Linked DNA regions of Homo sapiens. The protein of the gene in region 1 purifies or fractionates together with the protein of each later gene. This does not show direct contact. Each region holds a gene or a part of one and is shown in the gene's direction. Other genes may lie near its edges. The genes, in order: CAV3, TULP3, CEP95, SHTN1, TBC1D2B, REEP1 and TOM1L1.

Region 1 (4,201 bases):
CAAAATCCACATTCTTTAGTATGACATTTGGGATGCTGCACACCCAGGCCTGAGCTGAGCTGTATCTCCTGCCTCAACCCCAGACACCCTGTGCTCCAGCCACTCCACACTTTTCAACATTCCTGTCTATACCACTCCTCAATATCCACAATCCTGTAACTTGAAGTGTTCTAGGTGCTGAGCTCCTGCTTGTCATTCGATACCTATCTGCAAAGCCACCTCCCACAGGAAGTCTTCCCCGGTGTCCTCAGAGTAAGTTACTGACTCCTATGGACTTCTAAGACCAGCTCTTTGTAAAATATCTCTGATCTGTGGCACTTACCGCACAGTATTATAATCACTTATTGTTTTAATTAGTCTCCCCACCTTGACTGGGAGCACTTCAAGGCGGACAGAGCCTTGTTGGTCTGTTTATCCCCAGCTATTAGCAAATCCTGAATGAAGGAGTGAATAGACAGGTAAATGGAAGCACAGACCCTGACCCCTGAGGATTCAGAGTTGCCATCCTTCATGCTGCTGGAGCCCAGGGGAAGGCTGAGTTAGAAGAGGGCACAGAAAAACCGAGCAGGTATCTAAGAGAGGTGCACCCCACTGATGCATGTGGAGTGTCTGGGACCCAAGAAAATCCTGGAAGCTGTCACTAGGGCAGGGTGAAGGGTAGCACGAACATGGACTTCATGTTCCCCCCACCGGGCATATCCCAGTGCAGGCTCCAGACGGCAGACGAGGGGCAGCCCCACAGCAGCTTCCTCTCCCTGTTTCATCCCCAGCCTGGCCCCACACCACAGTCCATCAACTCCTGCTCCAGGTGGAAACCTCAGAAACCCACAAAGCTCGGACCTGCTCCAGGTCACCAAGCAGCAGGGCCAGGCACTGGCAATCCAACGAGAAGCCCCACTACATCGCATTCCAGCTCCTGAAGCCATTCCCTGGGTAGGAGAGCCCTGATTGTTATTATCATCTCTCCATTTTACAGATGGGGACAGAGTGGCCTAGAGAGGTGAAGTGTGCCAAAGGTCACACAGCCAGCCAGAGGCAGAGGAGGGACTAACCCCACTTCCCTCCACGGGCAGTGCACCCCAAAGGAGCCAAAATGCTGACAGCAGTGGGGCAAATTCCAGGGGCCCCGGAGCGACCGCCGAGTTGGCCACAGCCACACGATGCATAGGAAACGCTAGGCCCTCTGCACCCTCTCCTGAGGCCCAGTGCCCTGAGGCAGCCCCCTTTAAGGAGCGATCGGCCTTCCAGAAGAGCTCCAGTCTTAATTTTAGCTTGGAGGCCTGCCACAGGAGGCTTTAGAGAGAGGCAGGCTGAAGTTATGTGGGACAGCTGTCAGCCGGCATGCTGGGTGGGGCCTATTTAGCTGGCAGGGACATAAGTCTGGGGACACTGAATTGGTCTCTCTGCCCCAAGTATTTTCAGCCCCAGCCGGCCACACAGCTCGGATCTCCTCCTGTGGATCCCCCCAGCTCTGCGATGATGGCAGAAGAGCACACAGATCTCGAGGCCCAGATCGTCAAGGATATCCACTGCAAGGAGATTGACCTGGTGAACCGAGACCCCAAGAACATTAACGAGGACATAGTCAAGGTAGGCTCTGCAGGCCTGCCTCGGCGGGCGGAGAGTGTCAGGTTTGCGAGACGTGGGCGCTTGGCAGGGGAGGGTATCTGCTGCAGACACAGTTTCCCTGAAAAGAGACTTGTTGCTCTGTTGTCTCTGTATCACCCCCCCAACCCCACCCCACCCCCAAAAAAAGGCTTCTAAATCACCGAAGGATCTTTAGCAAAATCAAGAGCAAAAAATTAGCCTCATCTCCATGACCTAAGTGCTAATCAGGGCAGGAGGAGCGAGTCACAAAGAAAATCCCTCCTTACTACTGTGACGCTCCTGCCACTCACTCCTGGCTCTCACCCTGGGAGGAACAGGAACGGGCGGCCAAGTTGGGCTCCTTTCTGTGCCAAGGGGCATTTCTGCGGTCTCTCCAGTGGGTGCAGGGTTAATCCCCAGAGGGCAGCTTCCAGCAGGGCCGGCAGCCCCTCGAGGTACACTCACTCCCCCAGAGCACTGCCCAATATCTGTCCCCAAGGCCGAGGGCCATGCCCAGCCCTCCCCTAGCTACCCCCTCACCCCAGGTCTAGTGGCCAGGACAGGGCAGACGGCACCCGGGACCCTCGAAGAGAAAGCTCGGGGTTGTCTAGCCCTCAGGGAGTCTCTCAGCGTCTGAAGTTGGGCCTCTTCCCTCGCCTCCTGGTGACACTAGCGGCCCTGCTGCCTCCAGGCCCACACCTTCAATCCAACTTCCAGCCAGTACCCAGAGGGATCTTTCTTTTTTCTTTTTGAGACAGTCTCTCTCTGTCCCCAAGGCTGGAGTGCAGTCGCACACTCACGCCTCACTGCAGCCTCAACCTCCCAGGCTCAAGTGATTCTCCCTCCTCCACCTCCTGATTAGCTGGGACCACAGGCGAGTGCCACCATGCCCAGCTAATTTTTGTATTTTTAGTAGAGACTGGGTTTCATTATGTTGACCAAGCTGGTATCAAACTCTTGGGCTCAAGTGATCCTCCTGCCTCCCAAAGTGCTGGGATTACAGGTGCAAGACTCCACAACTGGCTCAGAGGTACCTTTCTAAAGCAGAATTCCTCCAAGAAGGGTCCCCAGCCACCAGCATCTGAGTCACTGGAGGGGCTGTTAAGAGGCCAGTGTCTGAGGCCTCTCAGATCCTACTGAAAGCATTGGAATCTCAGGCCAGTGCTGTCCAATAGGGATACTGTTACCACAAGGAATTTAAAATTTTCTAGCAGCCACATTTTAAAATGCGAAAGCAAACAGGTGAAATTAATGTTCCTGATATTTCTTACTTAACCCTATATATCTAAAATAGTATTATTTCAACATGTAAGCAATATAAAACAATTATCAATGAGCTATTGTACAGTCTTCAAGTTTGAAATCCAGTGTGCTTCCTATACCCACAGTATATTTCAGTTCAGACCCCACATTTTCATCCGAAATGCTTGTTCTGCATTTAGATTTCATAAAATGTACATGTGAAAATCGATTCGCATGCCTGTACTGTTTCAAACATTCTGCAAAAATTTTTCAATAATGAAATCGGGGTTTACATTTTAATTAAAGTTAAACAAAATCTAGAATTCTTCAGTTTCACTAGCCACATTTCAAGCGCTCAAAGCTCCTGGCCACTGGATCAGACAGGCCTGTATTGCGGTCTTTCAGTGGGGCACCTCCCATGCTGGAGAAGCCTAGCCTCTCCACGTGGCTGTCCAAACCCAACACAATCTGGCCCCAACCTGCTTCTTCTGCCTGGTTGGCTCCCACCTGCCAGCCCACCCACCAGAGTACATTCCTGTGCCATTGCCAGAAGTGCCTGTCCTCTCTTCTCCAGGTGGTGAATGCCTCACTCAGCCTTCAAGGCCCAACTCAAATGCAACCTCCTCCAGAAAGCCTTCCCTGACTCCTCCAGGCAATTAGTTGCTCCCACTTCTGTCCCCCTGCTTCACTCAGGGCATTCCTCCACCACAGCTCTTCTTATACTGGATATTATATTTCTATACATCGTTAGTGATGGAGATAGAGTATACAGTATAGCACAGTGTGAAAGCTGAAATGAGGAAAATTAGGAAACAAATTTCACAAACTGTAAAGCACTATATACATGTAAATAAAATTGTACCTGTAAAATATTATTAGTTATGGTTTCCATCAGTGTCATCTAGCAGGAATAGTCCTGGACTTGACTTTAATAGACTTGATTTCAAATCCAGTCCATTTTACCTAAAAATGATAACACTGGACAAACCAACTAGGTTTTCTGAGACTCAGTTTCCCCTGTAAAGTGGGAATAATATCATTTCCCAATTTACCTCCACCAGGTAAACGAATCTCAAAGCAGCACTGTGCGTTAGAAATATAGCATGAGGATTGAATGAGATGAAGGGTTTGAAAGTGTCTATCACAGTCCCTGGCACCCAGCAAGGATGAGACAGTGTGAGTCAAAGAAGGGTCTCAAAGAGCTTGCAGTCTAGAGGGCAAGAGAGCTAAGCCAGGAGCCTGCGTCATGCCCAGGTAGCCATCTGGTACACCCAGGTGGGCTGCAGGGAGATGGGAAAGAGGATCCCACGGGAGAACATGGTTTCTAAAGGGCACCCACAATGGCTGGTAAGTACAGAGGGAGCCCTTGGAT
Region 2 (2,874 bases), on another chromosome or scaffold:
CTTAGGAGGGTCGAGGCTGCAGTGAGCCGTGATCACACCATGCACTCTAGCCTGGGCGACAGCATGAGACCCTGTTTAAAAAATAATAATAATCGGCCAGGCGTGGTGGCTCACGCCTGTAATCCCAGCACTTTGGGAGGCCGAGGCCGGTGGATCACCTGAAGTCAGGAGGTGGAGACCAGCCTGGCCAACATGGCAAAAACCCGTCTCTACTAAAAATACAAAAAAAATTAGCCAGGCGTGGTGGCAGGCACCTGTAATCCCAGCTACTCGGGAGGCTGAGGCAGGAGAATCGCTTGAACCCAGGAGGCAGAGGTTGCAATGAGCCAAGATTGTGCCACTGCACTCCAGCCTGGGTGACAGAGCAAGACGCCATCTCAAAATAAAATAAGAATAATCTGCTTGGCTTGACAGGCATTTTTAATACCTAGTGCAGGCCTTATTTAACCACAACTAATTTTCACTGTATGTAATATAGTGCTATGCCCTCACTGGGAAATAAATATGTGTTGGTGCTGACAAAGTTGAACAGTTTGTTCACAGTTATCTCAAATCACATTTAAGACTCAAGAGTAAGAGGCCGGGCGTGGTGGCTCACTCCTGTAGTCACAGCACCTTGGGAGGCCAAGATGGGCGGATCACCTGAGGTCGGGAATTCGAGACCAACATGGAGAAACCCCGTCTCGACTAAAAAAAAAAAAAAAATACAAAATTAGCCGGGTGTGGTGGCGCATGCCTATAATCCCAGCTACTCAGGCTGAGGCAGGAAAATTGCTTGAACCCGGGAGGCGGAGGTTGTGGTGAGCTGAGATTGTGCCATTATACTCCAGCCTGGGCAACAAGAGTGAAACTCTGGTCCCAAAAAAAAAATAGTTAAGAGTAAACTCTCAAGCCAAGAGATTCTGTTTTAAATGTAGGTGTTTAAAGAAGGTATAGGCCAGGTGCAGTGGCTCACGCCTGTAATCCCAGCACTTTGGGAGGCTGAGGCAGGCAGATCACGAGGTCAGGAGATCGAGACCATCCTAGCCAACTTGGTGAAACCCCGTCTCTACTAAAAATACAAAAAATAATTAGCCAGGCGTGGTGGCATGCGCCTGTAGTCCCAGGCTGAGGCACAGGAATCGCTTGAACCCAGGAGGTGGAGATTGGAGGTTGCAGTGAGCTGAGATTGTGCCACTGCACTCCAGCCTGGCGACAGAGCGTGACTCTGTCTCAAAAAAAAAAAGAGAAGTATAAAGAGATATAATATTACTTTCCTGTTTTTGATTCTGTTTACAGCAAAGTAATAAAATTATTTTTGGTACACCTGATTTTTTTTTTTTTTTTTTTTTTTTTTTTTTTCTGAGGCAGAGTCTCACTCTTGTCGCCCAGGCTGGAGTGCAACGGCGTGATCTCGGCTCACTGCAGCCTCTGCCTCCTGGGTTCAAGCAATTCTCCTGCCTCAGCCTCCCGAGTAGCTGGGATTACAGGCGCCTGCCACCACGCCTGGCTAATTTTTGTATTTTTAGTAGAGACAGGGTTTCACCATGTTGGCCAGGCTGGTCTCAAACTCCTGACCTCAGGTTATCTGCCCACCTCGGCCTCCCAAAGTGCTGGGATTATAGGCGTGATCCACTGCCCCGGCTGATACAGCTGATATTGTCAGCATCTTACATTCCCAAGAAAGTCTCATGTTATAAAAGAATGTGGTCTCTATTTTTTTCCTGTTTCCAAGTTCTGCTTTGTTTTCCTATCTTCCAGGAAACAAACGTACTTGGATTTAAAGGTCCTAGGAAAATGTCTGTGATCATTCCTGGAATGACACTGAATCATAAGCAGATCCCCTATCAGCCACAAAACGTGAGTAAGAATGTATTTAAATCAGTGAAAGACTCTAAAAGACAGTAGTACAATACACAGAGATTAATACAAAAAAAAAAAAAAAGATTGAGCTTCCAGAGCCCCACACTGGAGATAGCTCCATACACTTCTTTAGGAAAGCTGCCCCTCCAAAACCTCAGGATAAGAGCAGTTGCAGAGTCATTGCCTTGAAACCATTTTTTCTACAAAGAGAAATGCTGGATGATGTAGAATAATTTTAAAAAAAACCTGTCTTCATTGTTGGCTTTCATTCTTCGCTTCTGGTTTACCCTTTCTGAAATGGAGAAAGTATTCTCCTACTCTACCTTCTACCTCGTAGAGTTGGAGTTCTCAGTACAAAGTAATGATTTTCCCTTTGGACAGAACCATGACAGTTTGCTCTCAAGGTGGCAGAACAGAACTATGGAAAATCTGGTTGAGCTGCACAACAAGGCCCCCGTCTGGAACAGTGACACTCAGTCCTATGTCCTCAACTTCCGTGGCCGGGTCACTCAGGCGTCTGTGAAGAACTTCCAGATAGTCCACAAAAATGACCGTAAGCCTCCAGGAGGGGTTGGGTGGGAAGAGGAGGACAGATGCTCTTACAGGATGGGAATGCACATTCCCTGTACATGATAGGAAGTGACAGTCAGCAGATAATCATGGAGGAGAGACAGGATTTCTTTGGAAAGATGAAACTACAGTTTTAGAGAAAACTTGTAAATCACTGTGTTGAGGAGGGGAGAGGAGTGTGAGAGAGATGCTATAGCAAATCAGAGAAGTTGGCTGGGCACCATGGCTCACGTCTGTAATCCCAGCACTTTGGGAGGCCGAGGTGGGCAGATCGCTTGAGACCAGCCTGGGCAACATGGTGTGAAACCCCATCTCTACAAAAAATAGAAAAATTAGCTGGGCGTGGTGGCAGGCACTTGTAGTCCCAGCTACCCGGGAGGCTGAGGTGGGAGCATCACTTGAGCCAGGAGGTCGAGGCTGCAGTGAGCTGAGATTGCATCACTGCTCTCCAGCCTGGGTGAC
Region 3 (3,500 bases), on another chromosome or scaffold:
AATATTGGACCTCTAAGAATACATGAGAAGGAGGAGGAAACAGTGGGTAAAAGTCTCCACTGTAATAAATGCCATTTGATCAGATGAGTGGGAAGTACAAAGATGATCTTTTTAAAAGAAGAAGGGGCCAACAGGGCCTTAATCATGAGCTCTTTAGGAAAAGGCAGGATTTCATGTCATGATACAGGACTTGCTTATTAATAAGGCATTCAGGTTGCTAAAATATGACGAGACATGGTTCCAAAGAAAAGTAGTGTTTTTCCGCTACTTAAAACTTCCCATCAGTTTTTAAGGGTTTATTTGACTTAGCAGTTCACCAGGGGCTTAAAAACTACTCTAGGCTGACAAAATTAAAGAAGAGTAAGAGAAGACAGAACATCCTAGTTGGCTATAGACCTGGTTGTAAGAAACCCAAAACAGAAGTTTTCATTGCCTTTCAAAAGAATGGTTACAGAAACTAAGTGAAATCATGGGGAAAATGCTTATGCTAAAATATTCATGAACAAAACAGGATATAAAGTACAGTATGGTTACAACTAAGCATACTGCATAGTTGCCTGAGAATTTTTTAAATCTACATGGAAAAAGAGAAGTACATTGAAACATTAATGGTTAAAAAAAAGATTAATAGTGGTTGTATTTAGGGTGTGGGACTATGGTGACTGAAACTTGAAAAAGATTCAGTGCTTTTTCAAATTCCAAGGGATGCCAGAGGCCAAAAGGTGCATTTAACTTAGAGTAAATGAATATTAACCAGATTTTACAAATTTGAAGTAAGGTGGTTTGGCTTACTGTTAGCTAAAAAACTAAAAAACTACCGTTAGCTGTTTTTGTCAGTATGTAATATTTAAGATGATGTATGAAAGAACTGTTAGACCTTTTATTTTTATTCTGTTTTATATCTGCTTCTAAGGAAAAAATATACAGAGGAGAAGCTGTTCGTAAAGGAACTCCAGAATGTAGTCAGCCCTGGAAGATTTACTCTAGAAAAACCACAACGCAGAGTCTAAGAGGTGGCCTCCCAAAGCCAAATAAAGCAGTTCCAAGTAAGAACCACAGAATTGTACTTTATGGAAAACTGGCAACCTTTGAAAGCATGTGCAACATTCCAAGGACACAGCACTGAAAGCTAACATCCACCAGTTAGCCGAAGAAAGTTTTTTTTTTTTCCCAATCACTGCCATGTGGCTGGTTTTCCGTAGAGGGCTAAAACTCTTCAATAAGGAAGTACTTCAGGGAGGCCTATATATTGGCACCCAAGGAATGCCAGGACTGCCACCTGCTGCTCCAGCGTTAGCCTCACTCGTGTGCTTACTCACTTTGACTGCCTTTTTGTCTATTTCTGGGAGGTTGGTAGAATGAAAGGGATGCTCCAAGGCAAGCAGATGGCCTGTCCACCTCCTATATATTGACAGTGCCAATGAGTGTAGAGTCTTGTTACAAGAAACAAAGTCATGAGAAATGCCAGGCTTCCTGTTACACCCAAAGACTGCTGGCCCTCCTACTCTATCCTTTAGACCAGAAACTTTTTCTTCTAAGCACTTGCCTACCGGGAAGGTTGAGGAGTCTTGTTTTACCGTACGTAGAGAATCTACCCACAGGCACTGAAGCGGCTGAGCAATTAGGATGGACTTCCCAGGACCAGCATGGCATCAATCCAGAACTATTGAGCTTATTTTTATCCTTACCAGTAGTTGGCTTACTCCAATCAGAGGAGTAATGCAAATTATTATAAGTACATTTAGAATTGTTCTTTTCAGGATCAAAACCACATCACTTACATAAGCTTTGATCTACCAGGGATGTTGGATGACAGTTCTTGTCCACGTCTCAGATTAAGAACATCTTATTTTACCTTGCAGTGAAAGTAAGTGAACACAGTCTCCTGCCCCTTATGCTGGAGCAGTTTCCGTTTCTTTATGTTTCTGGCCCAACACTAAGCAAAATGTGGAAACAGCAAATTGCACAGGTTGAACAGCTTAAGAAAGAAGCATGTAGAGAAAATCGATCAAAGAAGAAACTCCAAGATGAAGTAAGTTACTGTCAGTCTTAAGCATAGGAATTTAAATGAGAAGAGCTTATCCTTAAGAATTTAGTGAACAGCATTATTAACCTACTTAACTTCATGTCCCCCTTCAAGATAGAAGAAGCCCTAAGAAGGCATGACCTCCTTACTACCCTTGTCAAGAAAGAATATGAACATAACAAGAGACTGGTATGTCAAGAGCAAGTTGGGTATTATAATTCTGAATTTGTTATATTCATTCCCTTTATCTGTGCTAGCTGGGCAACAGTTGCACAGACCCTTAACCTCTTAACACCTGCATGTGGAAGTGTTGCCTAGGTCTTTAACCAAAATTGATAGCCCATGCCTGTAATCCCAGCACTTTGGGAGGCTGAGGTGAGAGGATCACTTGAGACCAGCCTCAGCAACATAGTGGGACCCTGTCATTAAAAATATATATATGGGTGTGGAAAAAATGAGCCTGGCATGGTGGCATTTGCCTGTGGTCCCAGCTACTTGGGAGGCTGAAGTGGGAGGATCACTTGAACGTGGGAGGGCGAGGCTGCAGTGAGCTATGATCTTGCCACTGCACTCCAGCCTGGGTGCCAGAGTGAGACCCTGTCTCAACAACAACAAAACACACAAACCCAAAATGGGCAGGAGGAAGAGCTAGGTACTTTATATACACAGTTTCAGTTAGTCTTCATAGTAATGTATTAGAGATGTTTTCTATGAAATGAAAACCCTGAAGCTTTGAGATACTAAGTAACTTGCCCTGGGTCTCACTGATAAGCAAGGGACACAGCTGAGATTTTAATCCAGTTCTGTCTGTGGACTCCATGGACCCATCTAGGTGCCAAGCAGCTGAACTTAGTGCTGTTTGCCCTCTCCCATCCTTCTCAGGTCCCAAGTAGAGAGCTCCAGGATTTATCAGCCTCCGTTATAATTTTGACTAGGAATTGTGCTTAGAGAATTACGAAGGGAGAGGATGGAGGTCAGAAACAATCTGCCAAAGGGAGAGATTTAAAAATCTTTGCCTGAGTGTGGAGTAGAGATAAGCCATGAGAACTGTAATACTGAACAGTTCCAGGAAGACATCTCAGGAACTGCAGATGGTACTTTCCTGTGGAGGGAAAAAACACTAGTATCTGAAACACCTACATAAGAGGCTTTATGTACATGACCCCATTTTATTTTCACTCCTTTGTCAGATACTGTCTAATTTCCTTAGTTTTTGCCTAAATGCTCCTGGCAGCTCAGGCTCTGCTTGAAAGTCTGGGTGTGCCATTTTCCTACTCCTTGTGAGGTGGCATCTGGGCCAGCCTTGTTAGCAGCTTCCTGGTGGCATGGGGAGTGAGCCCTCAGTTCCACAGGAGTGCCCAGGATCACTGCTGCCCTCTGCTGCAGTGGGGTGTTATTGGAGCTGCTCTTCAGATTGAGGTGATAAAGCTGCCAAAGGCTGAAGGGCTTCTGGGGCCACTGGCCCCCCACACGT
Region 4 (3,500 bases), on another chromosome or scaffold:
ACAAATATTTTCTAAATGTATAAAATAAAAATTGAAAGTTACCCCCCATTCTTAACTCCCGCTAGTTCATTTAAAAAACAAAACCAAAAACTTAATCCCCCTCAACAAGAAAACTATCAGTTGTCTTCATAACTATATTAAAATTTTAAATTTCTTCAACATAATTAAATTTTTTGACCAGGCATGGTGGCTCACGTCTGTAATCCAAGCACTTTGGGAGGCCGAGGCGGGGGGATCAATTGAGGCCAGGAGTTCAAGACCAACCTGGCCAACATAGTGAAACCCCATCTCTACTAAAAATACACAGATTAGCCAGGCATGGTGGCAGGCACCTGTAGTCCCAGCTACTTGGGAGGCTGAGGCACGAGAATCACTTGAACCTGAGAGGCAGAGGTTGCAGTGAGCCGAGATTGTGCCACTGCACTCCAGCCTGGGTGCCAGAGCGAGACTCCATCTCAAAAAAAAAAAAAAATTACTGTAATCATAATGGTCACCCAAAACAATTCATTTTAATTAAATCACTGGTCTGAAGTTTAAGATACTGTGATGAAATATTGATTACTCTTTCTTAGAATGCTGAAGCTGCATCTCACCCTTCTCCAGCCAAGTGTACATGCACATACTCTTCCTCACTGCAGTCTCTATACCTCTCACTCTCACACAAATGGAAGAAGAATGTGGGTTTCATGTATATGCAATTGTTTATTTACCTGTTTGACTTTGTAATGTGTTTTAATTCTGCAGAAGAACCCTGTCGTAGTTTTGTAGGCTTTTCATAAATCCCTAGGCAAAGAAGGAAAGCTTCTGACCTTTTTTTCCCTTTCATAGGAAGACATACTGGGAAGAAAATGTTAGTGTTTTAGTATACTGTATTCATGACTTGACTTTGATGTGGAAGTCGATACTGATCAAGAGCTTAAGGATTGTATAAATCATTAAAGCTGTGGTCTTGCCACATGGAGGTTGATGGAAAATATTTTTGTCCTGAGTTTTATTTGCTGACTTTTTCTGTTACATGATGGGTGAAGTTGTTGAACAAACTAATATGAGGGCTTTAGCAAATCATTTTGCAGTTCAGAGCTTTCAGTTAAGTTATAATGTAAATTTTAAAATGCTGTTAAAAATCTGAAAAGGTGAAGCTCTATTATAAAATTGGTAGGCCAGATTTCAGAGTTTACAAAAACATTTCATACTTGGAATCACTCACTGGCCAAATTGGGTAGAGTGTTAAGGAAAAGAAATAACAGGTAAATAGAAATCAATATTATTTTCAATCATGTAAAGTTGTGAGGATTTGATGAATAACATATAAATTGCTTAATACAGTGCTCAATAAAATATACTGTCTCCCTTCTCCCCTTTACCCTTCTACTGTTAACTACTTTTATCACTAGGGAGAAACTAATTAGTTTAAAACAAAACATTAGATCTAGCAAATAGTAGAGGAACTTAGCCAGATGGTTAAGAGCTTGGGCATGTAAATCAGATATGGGTTTAAGTCCTGGTCTTGTCACTTACGTGTGTTCTTGGGAAAGTTGCTTAACTTCTTTGAGCCTCAGTTACCTTATTAGTAAAATTAGATGATAGTAGTGTCTACTTGATAGTGTTGTTTTAAGGATTATATGATATAATGAATGTAAAATGATTCCCACCATATCTATCACATAGTGTTTAGTAAATGTTACCTATTCATAGTAGAAGCACTTTAATAGGATTGATGTAAGGATTAAAATAATCCATATAAAATATTTAGTGGAGTACACAAGGTAAATTCTTGAGAAATATTAGCTACTACTATTAATATTAATGTATCTTAAAGCAATAATAAAATATTAAAAACTGAAGAGTAAGACCAGCTTATTGTATAAATATCTTGTTGGGGCAGGAGTAAAGGTATTAAAGATTATATAAAAGGAATGAAATCATAGCAATCACTACTTCTAAAACTTATAGAAGTCAGAATTTGCCTTTAATGATTTAATAAAAATTCCATGTACTTTTCTTTTGCTGAAGTTACAGTTGAGGAGGTATGTGAGATTGATTGATATATACATTCTTGTAACAAACTTTTGCAGATGTTCATTGAGCAAAACAAGCTAAAGAGACAAAGCCACCTTCTGCTGCAGAGCTCCATCCCTGATCAGCAGCTTTTGAAAGCTTTAGACGAAAATGCAAAACTCACCCAGCAACTTGAAGAAGAGAGAATTCAGCATCAACAAAAGGTAACCCATTTTCTTCTGGAATCTTAGGTACACACACACATACATGCATACACACATATATTTAAGATGAAGGGAGCCAGTGCAGTCAGTCCAGTCATTTACTGTTTCATATTTTGCCTTAGTTACTAAGTGCTTTCAACCACCTTTTAGAAAAAAATAACTAAATGAACTTAATGTTGTGAAACTGAAATTTGTAATACGCTATTATAGACTTTATAATAATCTTTAAACTGTCCAAAGGGTCGGAAGAAGCAAGGGAAAGAGGTATAACTTAAAAACAGCTTGGATAAGGCAAAGTCTGGAAATTCAATTTTTGGAAATGTTATATTTTTTGGAGACTGCACACACTAAGAGGCTGTATTCAACTCAGAGCACTTGTTGGAGGGCATAGGTTTTATTCAAAGAAAATGACAGTCCGTATTAGTAGTAATTGTTTGCTTAGAGAAAATTTTTGATTTTGTAAACTTGCACAAATGTGTATGTTTAAAGACTTCCTAAGTGATTATTTCAATTTGATGAGTGGAGCTATTCCAGCTGACACAGCCTACCTCTGTGTGCCAAGAAGAAAGGATAGTCATTGTGGTAGGTGAGAGGAGAAGCAAAGAAGTGGAACAAAGACTTCCAAATTAAAGAGACCACTTAAGAAAAATTACATCAATGTTTATACTACTTATAATGTACCTCATTTGGGAAGGAAAGGCTGTTAGCTGCTACTTGTTACCACCTGTCAAAGCCTCTGTGGCAACAGTATTGACATTTAATCCTTGGAAGTTCTGAAGTTTTTACAAACTTGGTGGTGAGGTTGAGTTGATTTGTTTTGCCTCAATAAGAAATGTTGATATATGGTGGCTGGTAAGATGGCCGAATACGAACAGCTCCGGTCTGCAGCTCCGAGCGGGATCAACGCAGAAGGCGGGTGATTTCTGCATTGGGTACCCGGCTCATCTCACTGGAACTGGTTGGACAGTGAGTGCAGCCCATGAAGGGTGAGCTGAAGCAAGGTGGGGTGTTGCCTCACCCGGGAAGTGCAGGGGATTGGAGAACTCCCTCTCCTAGCCAAGGGAAGCCACGAGAGACTGTGCTGTGAGGAATGGTGCTCTCCAGCCCAGATACTACGCTTTTCCCACCATCTTTGCAACCCACAGACCAGGAGATTGCCTTGGGTGCCTACACCACCAGGGCCCTGGGATTCAAGCACAAAACTGGGTGGCCATTTGGGCAGACACCAAACTAGCTGCAGGAGTGTTTCTTCATACTCCAGTGGCACCTGGAACTCCA
Region 5 (3,500 bases), on another chromosome or scaffold:
AGGATCACTTGATACCAATAGTTCGAGACCAGCCTAGGCAACAAAGTGAGACCCTATCCCTACAAAAATTAAAAAAAACTAGCCAGGTGTGGCTGGATGTGGTGGCTCACGCCTGTAATCCCAGCACTTTGGGAAGCCGAGGTGGGTGGATCACTTGAGGTCAGGAGTTTGAGACCAGCCTGACCAGCATGGTGAGACCCTGTCTCTACTAAAAATACAAAATTAGCTGGGTGTGGTGGCGGATGCCTGTAATCCCAGCTGCTTGGGAGGCTGAGGCAGGAGAATTGCTTGAACCCAGGAAACAGAGGTTGCAGCAAGCTGAGGTGGCGCCATTGCACTCCAGCCTGGGCGACAAGAGCGAAACTCTGTCTCAAAACAAAAAACAAACTAGCCAGGCATGATGGCACATGTCTTTAGTCCCAGCTACTTGGGAGGCTGAGGCAGGAGGACTGCTTGATCCCAGGAGGTGGACATTGCAGTGAGCTGTGTTTGCTCCACTGTACTCCAGCCTGGGTGACAGAGGGAGACCCTGTTTCAAAAAAATAAAATAGCAAAATAAAAATGTTAAAACTGCCCTTGCCTTGTAGATTGTACAGAAATAGGCAGAGACTGGAAATGACCGCAGGCTGTAGTTCACTGACTTGTGTTCTAGGAAGGCCTCAGGAGCTTCCCACTCATTCACTCACTGTGTGTGCTTAGGCACTGGGGATATGACTGGACAAGACAAACAGTCCCTGTCCTCCTGGAGCTTTCAGTAGGTGGGGGGGACAGACGTTAATAAAATATAACAAACACCAACCAGTGCTAGGAAGTTTGAAAGGAAAGATATGCAATGCATGTATAGTTCAGGATCTTGATCTGGTTTATGGTTGGTGGAGGGCTAGGAAAGACTTTCCTGAAGAAGCGACATTTGAGCTGAGACTCAAAGGATGAGTTGGTGTTGACTGGAGCGGGGGTGGGGGTGGAGAGGAGGAAGTCAAGTGTTGTAGGGAGAGGAAATGGCATAAGCAGAGGCCCTTAGGTGGGGGTGCTGGTTGCATGTGGGACTCAAGGAGTGCCTGGTGGCAACTAGGAGTGAAGGGGACATAGCCTTTGGAAGAGGCAGGCCTTGGGCCAGGGCAGGATTTTGGTCTTCATCTTAAGAGCTAGAGTCAGTAAAGAGTTTTAAGCAGGGTTTGACAAATAGGTTTTTGTTTTCTTTCTTCTGCTCCCAGATAGATTGTTTTAGGCCATTTGTGCTGCTGTGAAAAAATACCGTAGACAGGGTAGCTTATAAACAACAGAAATTTATTTCTCATAGTTCTGGAGGCTGGGAAGCCCAAGATGAAGGCACCAGCAGATTTGGTGTCTGGTGAGGGCTCACTCTGCTTTAGAGGTGGTGCCTTCTAGTGGTGTCCTCATAGCAGAAGGGGACAGACAAGTTCCTTCTGGGGCCTCCATCTATGTATGTTTGTATATATGTATGTATGTATCTATCTATCTAAATGTATTTTTCTCCTCAAATTCCTTTTACCACTCTGGCCTCTTTCATAAGGACCCTGATCTCATTCCAGAGGGCTCTGCCCTCATGACTTAAATCACTTCCCACAAGGCTTCCCTCTTAGTACTATCATCTTGGGGACTGGGTCTCAACACGTGAATTTTGCGGGGACACACGTTTGGACTGTGGCACTGATGGTTTGGTCATGCCTAGTATTTTTATGTAACTAAGTTAGAGGATTATCGTGTTGGGTACAAAGGGTTGATGTATTTATATGTTATGTACTGGCAAACAGATTTAAAAGTAGATAAATGCAAAGCTGAACCTATCTTGAGCAGTTGCTTCTTAATTTTGTTTCTGAGTGGTGGGTGTTGTGATGGGTGAAGCTCGCTTTGGCAGGTGTGTGTGTGGCTAGGGCCGGCCCGCCCTGGTGGACTTCCTTTCCTGAAGCATTCCTAATGGCCCCCGGCATTGACTTCTCTCCTGCTGCACTTGCTTTGCTCATATGCACATTACCAGTTTCCTTCCTCTGTGGAGATGACGATTTCTTGAGAAATGGAAGGAGTATTCAGATGTACCAGCTCCCACCTCACGTCTGAGGGGGGTGGACCAGTCTCCTCGATCAGTTGCTTTTACCTTTGAGCCACTGGGGTGCAGACTTCCCACCTCCAGTCAGAACAAAATACAAACAGTAACACCCCCTTCCTCTAAAGAAAGAAAAAGACCCCCACCATTGTAGAAGTGACTGTCAGTTTGGGAGAGGGAGAGGCATTTTCATTAGCAATTTTCGGTTCTGGTATTTATGTAGTGGGATCTTAATGACATGTGATCGGGTGTTCACCCATATCCTGTCAGGCCAGCCCTCAGCTGGGTTTTGTTTGCTTTCACAGAGTGAATGCAATGTGGAAATGGTAAACTGGGTAGTGGTGACTAGTTAGTGGCTTGTAACTAGTGTTCTGTGAAGTACTTTGCCTGGAGTGCTCAGTTCAGTAAACATCTTGGCATTCAGATATGTGAGGCCATGTGAGGGGCAAGAAGCTGAGAGGATCCCTGGGGAGACTGTGGCTTTCGTGATTGTCCAGCAGGCAGTAGCTCACCAGCCAGCACAGGAGGCCCTCAGTCGGCTACAGATTCAGGATGGTTTTGCTCCTGGTCTAGTCTTTGAGTGTCTGCTGTTGTGTCCTACCAGAGCATCACCTCCTAGGATATTTTGTCAGTGTATTTCACTACTGTGCCTTTCATACTTAGAGGATCCCAGCACCTGTTAGATGCTTGTTGGCTAAATGCATGCTTTAAGCCCTCATATCCTCTGTGTGTGTGTGTGTGTGTGTGTGTGTGTGTGTGTGTGGGTGTGGTGTGTGTGCTTTCATTTCATGGTGAAACGGACGTTTGTAGTGTCCATTTACTCAGCAAATATTTTTGAGCATCTATCATATTCTAAGCACTATGCTGCTTGCTGCAAATACAGCAGTGAAAATTTTCCATTGATTTAAGAAACTGTAGTGTTAACTTTAAAAATAGCTTAGCATCTGATATAATCAAAGAATTGTAAGAGTTTTGAAAAAAACATTGAAGAGGCCCATGTTTGTCTGTAGTATTCAGCACTGAGATAAATATCACATGTCTGCAAGTTTTTTGATTCTGAGAAGTCTGGCACTTCTCCATAGTAAAGGAAGGGGAGGGGGCATCCATATGTAAAATACTAATCTGGATATGGCCCAGGGCCAGAAATCTGTGATTTGTGTAATAATTTTGGTGAACACTGCAGAATTGGAGAGTTCTGTATAACTGATTATCAAGAAAGCTCCCTGAAGAAGATGGGACAAGGGAGTTAGTAAATGTTGGTATAATTGTGTAGCTGCTCAAAGACTTAGTTCCTGTTTGATCAGCAACATGTGTTCCCTGTAAGCTGGGAATCACCATCTTCTAATGAGTTTGCATGCTTGGCCATTTTCTTAGCCTTTGCAGAGATTGCCTGGGAGAACTAGAATCCAGTGTGAGAAGTGGGGATTTGGTAGCT
Region 6 (3,500 bases), on another chromosome or scaffold:
ATTTTAAATGTGTTTGCACACAAATCCATTTCTACTTGGTCTTCGTAATACCCATGATGATGTTCCCTTACTGCTAGATATTTAGATTATCTCTACCTTTTCCTGATATAGATAGTTCTGCAGTGAGCACTACCATTCCTGGAGTTTAGTTGCTTCCTTTAATTGTCTTAGAATTAATTCCCAAGAGCAGGATTATTAAGTCAAACGATTCCAACATTGTATCATTCGTTAACTGTATTACTTACTAAGCTGATTGTGTAGTGGGGTTTCTTAACTAAAATAGGAGCATTATAGGTGGCTTGACAGATTAATGTCTATTGTTTCTGAAAGTTGAATTCCTTGGACTAGAAAGGGGAAGGCTTTGGGAAACATATCCGTTGGATGAGCAGGCTACTGTACAAGTTTCGGAAAATCTCTTTAGGAACTCGGACCGCAGCACTTCCTGTCTCAGAAGGGTGGATTTTGAGGAACGGATCCCTGTCTTGACCTGGTTATCAAATCCCTACTCGTCTTACTTCCCTTTCCCCAAATGCTGGGCTTCCCCTGAAGCTGCCAATGTAACTTCCATTGAAGTGAAGGTGACTGACTCTTAAGAGTTGCCAAGAATCACTTCCAAAGGGGTGGTGGTGGGGGACAGGCAGGTCACAGTTAGAGGGCCTGCTGCTATGACTTCCTGGGGAAGCCTTCCACAGGGAATCCAGCAGGAGGTTGCTGACCCACTTGCACACCTCAAAGCAATGGAAATACACTAATGCACAGAACTTGACTAAGGCCAAATGTCATTGTCTTACCGAACTCTGAAATGAGCAGCTGTCATGAAAAACAGCCTTTTTTTGGGGGGTGGGGGGCGCGGAATCTTGCTCTGTTGCCCAGGCTGGAGTGCAGTGGCACGATCTCGGCTCACTGCAACCTCTGCCTCCTGGGCTCCAGCAATTCTCCTGCCTCAGCCTCCCAGGTAGCTGGGACTATAGGCACGTGCCACCATGCCTGACTCATTTTGTATTTTTAGAGGAGATGGGGTTTTACCATGTTGGCCAGGCTGGTCTCGAACTCTTGACCTCAGGTGATACGCCCACCTTGGCCTCCCAAAGTGCTGGGATTACAGGCGTGAGCCACTGCACCCGGCCGACAAACAGCCATTTTCTTAAAACAATGACAACAACAAAACACTCCCAAACAAACAAAAATAATACACCAAAGTTAATCCAAATTTGAACTAAACCAATATTGTACTTGGCTTTGGTCCCTGAAGAAGACCTCAATCCTGTTTTCCATCTCACCTTTACCTTGTTGCATGACACTGGATGACTTCTAATTTCTGATTTTATTTGAATATGTGTAAAACAATCTCCCTTATCCAGTAATACTCATTTCTTTCAGCTTTGTAATCCCTCCCATCGATATACAAATGGGGTGATATTTGATTTTAGAATTAAATAACTATAGAATAACAGAATTTTAGAACTGCAAGGGCTCAACCCTGTCAAGATAAGGAAGATGACATGGTTATCATTTATTGAAACTAGCCACTGTGTTAGATGTTTTACTGGAATTACCTCATTTAATCCTCACCATGCTCCGCAAGTTGGGTATTATCATTATCCTCGTTTTTCAGAAGACTAAAACTGTGTGTAGAGAGGCTTGCCAAGGTCTGGCAGTCAGTTGGTGGCAGGTCTGAGGCTAGAAGCTCGGTTCTGGGCACTCTCTCCACCCTGGGTGCTTTCAGTGTCTGGTGAGTGGCTGTGTGTAGAATGGCAGGCAAGGCTGTCCATATCCAGAACCTCCTGGAGCCTCCTGGAAGGTCAGAGGGCTTTAGAAACAATCTCAGGGCATCGCTGGATCCGTAAGTTGCAGTGTTTTCAGAGTTCCCTTTTCTACTCTCCTGTATCTCTGCTCTCCCCTCTGCACGCACACCTTCAAAGTGCCTACAGCTTTTCAGGCCCAGCAAGAACAAGGATTGGGCAAGCTGCCAAGCCCAATGCTCAGAGGAAAGGAAAGAAAACAGAGATGTGTTTGAACCTTCCAGCTCAGTGTGCCTCTGTTTTTCCTTTGACAGGAAATCGATGATTGTCTGGTCCAAGCAAAAGACCGAAGTTACGATGCCCTTGTGCACTTCGGGAAGCGGGGCTTGAACGTGGCCGCCACAGCGGCTGTGATGGCTGCTTCCAAGGTACTGTGCTGGAAGTACCACAACTACATGAGTCTCAGTCCCTCTAGTGTGCCCTGCTCATCACCTGTGCGACCACACAGAACAGGCTAAGGACCAATCAGTGGTTTTTCATCTTTTAGGGGTCCTTTTGAAAATCTGATGGAAAAAAATGCTGAATCTTGCCCCAGAAAATTCTCACCCCCCAACACACATGCCCACATACTTGCAATATCAAGAGGTTCCCAGAGCCCCTGAAGCTCATCTGTGCGTCCCAGGTTAAGAATTTCTAACTTATCCAACCCCACTGGAAACAAGAAAATAATAGAATTTCTAACTTACTTGGCACTTAGGCCTGGGAGAAACAGAAGAGGGCAGGGGAGAGAGGGAGAGAGTGCTTCTCTGCAGTTTCCTAGGGTGCACTGGGAGAGTCGCCTAAATGCAGTGGACAGGTGGAGAGACTACCTGAGCAAGCGGGTGGACTCACTCACGATCATGTGGCCCAGCAGATCCAGGGGAAGGAACCCAGGTCCTAGAATAAGTTGAGTGGTCCAGACATGGAGGTCAGTAATGTGCCAAGCCATAACAACTGAAGTGGAGGAGGTTTGAAATAAACACCAGTCTGTGGGATGTTGTGGTGTGAGCATTACTTCTTTCTCTATTCTCTCCAGCCCTTTTCAAAACTGTGTTTCTTCCTAGCATCTTCTCATATCACCCTCTTGTTGTCGTCAATTTGTCATTATTTACGTAGATCTGAAAAGTTAAATTGGTCAGATATTTCCTCTCATGTGAAATCAGCAGATCATCCTAGTGTTCCCCAGGGACAAGCCCTTCCCCAACAACCATGTGTGGAGTAGGGACCTACATTCGGCTGGTGGTGGAGGGAAGGCAGTTATGCTGATGATTGGAAAGACACAGTGGTTGGGAGGTGAGTTGTATTAGCATAAGGAAGTTTGTCCCTTGTGGTGATGTGAGGGTTTTGGGGAAGGAGGCGATGGGGCTTAAAAGGTTTGCAAGAAGATGATTAGTACAGATCTTGGTGCTCTATGAACATTGTGCGGATGGCAGGATGGAGGGTGCTGAGAGCCAGTTTCAAGAGACTGAGCTGGGTTTTCCTTGCCCTGAACCAAAGAGAAGCACATTAGGATCATTTCTGGAAGAGACTCAGCACACTGGGCCGGGTAGTTGCTTGAAAAGTACCTTTCAGGAAGCCAAGGAATTCTGCAGACAAAGCCTGGACAAGAGGGAAGGGGAACCAAAAATGAATGATTCCTCTTTCAGACAAGACCAGCTCCATCTATAACACAGAATTGTAGCTAGGTATCCCGCCACTCCATGTGGCAGATCTCGGGGT
Region 7 (3,500 bases), on another chromosome or scaffold:
AATTGAGACTAACAGAAACAGATTTATTTCCGAGATGAAAATGGCTATTACATAGCATAGGCAAGATTTGATCCCAGTCCTCAGATTCTAAATTCCATGCCCTTGCCTCATGCCACTTTGTTTCTAAGAACGAATCAAGCCTCTTAAAAGAGTAGGCTACTGTGTTTCCTTTATGTCTTTAGTTTCTTCCTGTGTAGTACAGGGCCAGGTATATCAGATGTTGACTGGATTAATGATTAAGCACCCCACCCTCATACACACACCTAATCCCGTCTCTCCTAGTATCCGGGAAGACTCAAGGGCTAATGGAAGGTACTGTAGAACCGGAGTAGAAAGATGTGTAGATGTACCCTCAAATATAGTATATCTGGGATATCTCAAGGGTGCCAAAGGTTAGGAGAATTGAGTAAGGAAGAGAAGGGCAGAAGATGAATTTATGCCCCCTTCTCTATTTCAGCATGGGGTATTATTATTTTGCTTTTTACAGGTGTTCACCATTCATAACAATTTGCCGCTTTCTCCATTGTGCCCAGCCTACTTGATGTTTCAGTGGTTGCTTCTTAATCCCACCTCCATATCTTCTTCCATCATGGTTCCCTCCCTGTGACGACGGACCAGGGACCCTCCTTGAGGAAGTTGGGCTATTCCAGAGTGTTGTGCCTCTGGCCCTCTGTTTCTCTTTGGGCTTCCACTCTTCCTTCTCATCAGGTAGTCTAATCTGCTCGCTGCCTTTCCCATTATCTGTTCCACCTCAGATCTGTAGCTCCCTTACCTCGTGGTTTCTGTCCAATCTAAAGCCTGTGCCTAAAAACAGGCAAGAGTCACAAGTCATAGGTCAGAATACACCTTCATCCTTGGGGTCACAGTACATTAAAGTCAGGAAAAACATCTGGCTTTTCCTTGGATTTTCTTTAAATAGGCCTTTGACTCTTCATATCTTCATGCTGATTTCCCTGAGTTGTGTATTTAATGGTCTAGTCACCTCGTCTCAGACTACTCACTGCCTTGCAGAGGTATGCTTAAGGCCTCAGAACTGACTTTAATATTCACGTAAGCCAAATTTAATTATGAGGGAAATTAGTCACAGGAGTCACCTATGTCTGTCAAAAGCAATTATAAGTTTACCAGTAAACTCTTTAAAATGTAATCCCTATATATGACATTTCCATTTTATTAATGTAAAGTGATGAGAGCCTGTCAAATTCGATTATAAATATTCTTTATGTTATCTGTCATGTTGAGTTCTCCGTGGACGTGTTAGCCTTGATTGGGCTTTGACGGAACCTGACTGTACTATGATTTCCTACCATCAGTCGGTGGAGCAGTTTTGTTTTGTGTTTCAGCAGAATTTTGTTACCAGGCTTTATTACTCTGAGCCAGAGAGTATTCTGTTCTTGAATGAGTCAATTGTGATAAATCTCAGCAAGAGGCTACTATTATTGTCAAATGGAAAGTGGTCGAACAGGTTCCTGAGAATCAATTAGTTAATAGGCCTTTGTGGAGCACCCCCTAAGCAGTGAGCTTCAGGGGTTTCATAAAATGTGTAAAATGTGGTTGAAAATAATAATGAAGAAAAAGCTTGGTTTATTCTCCTTTGGCAAATTTACCAGTGAAACAAAATATCAGGCTGGGTGCAGTGGCTCATGCCTGTAATCCCAGCACTTTGGGAGGCCGAGGAGGGTAGATCACTTCAGGTCAGGAGTTAGAGACCAGCCTGGGCAACATGGTAATACCCTGTCTCTACTGAAAATACAAAAACTAGCCAGTCATGGTGGCATGTGACTGTAATCCCAGCTACTCGGGAGGCTGAGGCAGGAAAATTGCTTGAACCCAGGAGGCGGAGGTTGCAGTGAGCCTAGATTGTGCCAGTGCACTCCAGCCTGGGTGACAAAGCGAGACTCTGTATCCAAGCAAAACAAAGCAAAACAAAACCATGTGGTTGTCCCCCCAGGAGCTTGTTGCAGTTGGAGGGAGTGAGAAGACTGAGGCCTGTCCTAGGGGTGTCATCATAGAGTGGGGTAGTCACCTTGGTGTAGGCACTATTCACGGCCCAGGTGTAGCTCTGATGGCCCTGAAACCTGGTTGTTGTCACTCTGCCTGGTTTGGAAATTTACAGTGAGAAAACTGTCAACTACCTCTTTTTCTTCCAGCCCTCTCTTAAAATACTTAGATCAGCTAATCATCACATTCACTCCTGCTAGGAAGTTCTCCATGGAAGATGATCTAAATAGTTGCCATGTATTGAGGTCCTGCTTTGTGGCAGGCTCTTTGTTATGTTTCATTTGGGCCTTACAACAAGTCTCTAGAGGGAGATATTATGTCCATTTTGCAGATAAGGACACTGAAGCTTAGGATAAGTGATTTGCCCAGCCAAGCCCAAAAGATCAGTGAAGCCTGGAGTCACCCACTTCAGTCTTTGTTCCTTGGCTCCTGAGTTTTCAATCCCACCTCAGATTATGGATTCTTATTTGTCTTATTTCGAAAGATGGGTTATCTGAACACATTTGCATCAAAGTTCAATTTCAGAATATGTGAAAACATATTTAATTTTTCCAATTTGCCACGTAGGTTTTATTACTTATCTGAGTGAGTTGGAGGGTGAAAGAGGTTCTGGTGACATAATAGAGGAGGTGATGTAGAATTAATTAGTCCTGACATTCTTGATTCTAATGGGAAAACACAAAAGGCATGACTGCTAATCTCCAGATGTTCACATTTTTAGCATTTCATGTTGACTCTTTGATTTTGTGCATGTACCTCCTGGGAGTCTTACCCATTATCATAAAATCTTGTGGCACCAAAGATAAAAATTAGTTTGTGAGGGCCAGGTGCAGTGGTTCATGCCTGTAATCCCAGCACTTTGGGAGGCCGGGGTGGATGGATCACTTGAGGCTAGGAGTTTGAGACCAGCCTGGCCAGTATGGCGAAAACCCATGTCTACTAAAAATACAAAAATTAGCTGGGCATGGTGGTGCACGCCTGTAATCTCAGCTACTTGGGAAGCCGAGGCATGAGAATCACCTGAACCGGAGAGGCAGAGGTTGCAGTGAGTCGAGATTGCGCCACTGCACTCCAGCCTAGGTGACAGAGTGAGACCCTGTCTCAAACAAACAAACAAACAAAAATTGGTTTGCGAATTATTTAGCAAGAAATACACCTAGGGAGAGTGAGACTTGGAGGCTAGGTATTTGCGTAAGACGGTACAACTAGTTAGGTGAAATATTTCTGTAAACTCACATTGAGCTAGAAGCACTTTTCCTTTTAGGATTTCGCCCGTTAAAAATTCATTATAATAATCCATCAAGCTAAATGGCATGTTATTCAACTTTCCAACTTTGTCTCACCAAACTGTACAGATTCATCTTAATATGTTTTGGATTTTGTTTTTATTTTTCTTTGCCTTAAAGGTTTTCCCTGTGTTTCACACAGCTGCATGTTTCTATATTTTCTGATTATTTCTTGGTCACAGTGCCTTAAAACTATAGCGTTTTAAGTATAAC

What was found.
Region 2: the proteins of CAV3 (region 1) and TULP3 purify together in Homo sapiens (affinity purification with mass spectrometry; 2 studies listed by BioGRID and IntAct, with this or other methods). This does not show direct contact.
Region 3: the proteins of CAV3 (region 1) and CEP95 purify together in Homo sapiens (affinity purification with mass spectrometry; 2 studies listed by BioGRID and IntAct, with this or other methods). This does not show direct contact.
Region 4: the proteins of CAV3 (region 1) and SHTN1 purify together in Homo sapiens (affinity purification with mass spectrometry; 2 studies listed by BioGRID and IntAct, with this or other methods). This does not show direct contact.
Region 5: the proteins of CAV3 (region 1) and TBC1D2B purify together in Homo sapiens (affinity purification with mass spectrometry; 2 studies listed by BioGRID and IntAct, with this or other methods). This does not show direct contact.
Region 6: the proteins of CAV3 (region 1) and REEP1 purify together in Homo sapiens (affinity purification with mass spectrometry; 2 studies listed by BioGRID and IntAct, with this or other methods). This does not show direct contact.
Region 7: the proteins of CAV3 (region 1) and TOM1L1 purify together in Homo sapiens (affinity purification with mass spectrometry; 2 studies listed by BioGRID and IntAct, with this or other methods). This does not show direct contact.

The regions. Positions count from the first base shown.
Region 1 is NC_000003.12:8,732,401-8,736,601, forward strand, and holds the start of CAV3 (caveolin-3), read left to right. Parts: upstream 1-1,401; 5' UTR 1,402-1,476; coding exon 1,477-1,590; intron 1,591-4,201. UniProt on the Homo sapiens protein: May act as a scaffolding protein within caveolar membranes. Interacts directly with G-protein alpha subunits and can functionally regulate their activity. May also regulate voltage-gated potassium channels.
Region 2 is NC_000012.12:2,935,891-2,938,764, forward strand, and holds part of TULP3 (tubby-related protein 3), read left to right. Parts: intron 1-1,740; coding exon 1,741-1,839; intron 1,840-2,223; coding exon 2,224-2,395; intron 2,396-2,874. UniProt on the Homo sapiens protein: Negative regulator of the Shh signaling transduction pathway: recruited to primary cilia via association with the IFT complex A (IFT-A) and is required for recruitment of G protein-coupled receptor GPR161 to cilia, a promoter of PKA-dependent basal repression machinery in Shh signaling.
Region 3 is NC_000017.11:64,530,977-64,534,476, forward strand, and holds part of CEP95 (centrosomal protein of 95 kDa), read left to right. Parts: coding exon 1-42; coding exon of another isoform or gene 43-46; exon of another isoform or gene 47-913; coding exon 914-1,046; exon of another isoform or gene 1,047-1,862; coding exon 1,863-2,032; intron 2,033-2,140; coding exon 2,141-2,215; intron 2,216-3,500.
Region 4 is NC_000010.11:116,939,188-116,942,687, reverse strand, and holds part of SHTN1 (shootin-1), read left to right. Parts: intron 1-2,075; coding exon 2,076-2,222; intron 2,223-3,500. UniProt on the Homo sapiens protein: Involved in the generation of internal asymmetric signals required for neuronal polarization and neurite outgrowth.
Region 5 is NC_000015.10:78,067,712-78,071,211, reverse strand, and holds part of TBC1D2B (TBC1 domain family member 2B), read left to right. Parts: intron 1-3,500. UniProt on the Homo sapiens protein: GTPase-activating protein that plays a role in the early steps of endocytosis.
Region 6 is NC_000002.12:86,250,627-86,254,126, reverse strand, and holds part of REEP1 (receptor expression-enhancing protein 1), read left to right. Parts: intron 1-2,056; coding exon 2,057-2,170; intron 2,171-3,500.
Region 7 is NC_000017.11:54,907,352-54,910,851, forward strand, and holds part of TOM1L1 (TOM1-like protein 1), read left to right. Parts: intron 1-3,500. UniProt on the Homo sapiens protein: Probable adapter protein involved in signaling pathways. Interacts with the SH2 and SH3 domains of various signaling proteins when it is phosphorylated. May promote FYN activation, possibly by disrupting intramolecular SH3-dependent interactions.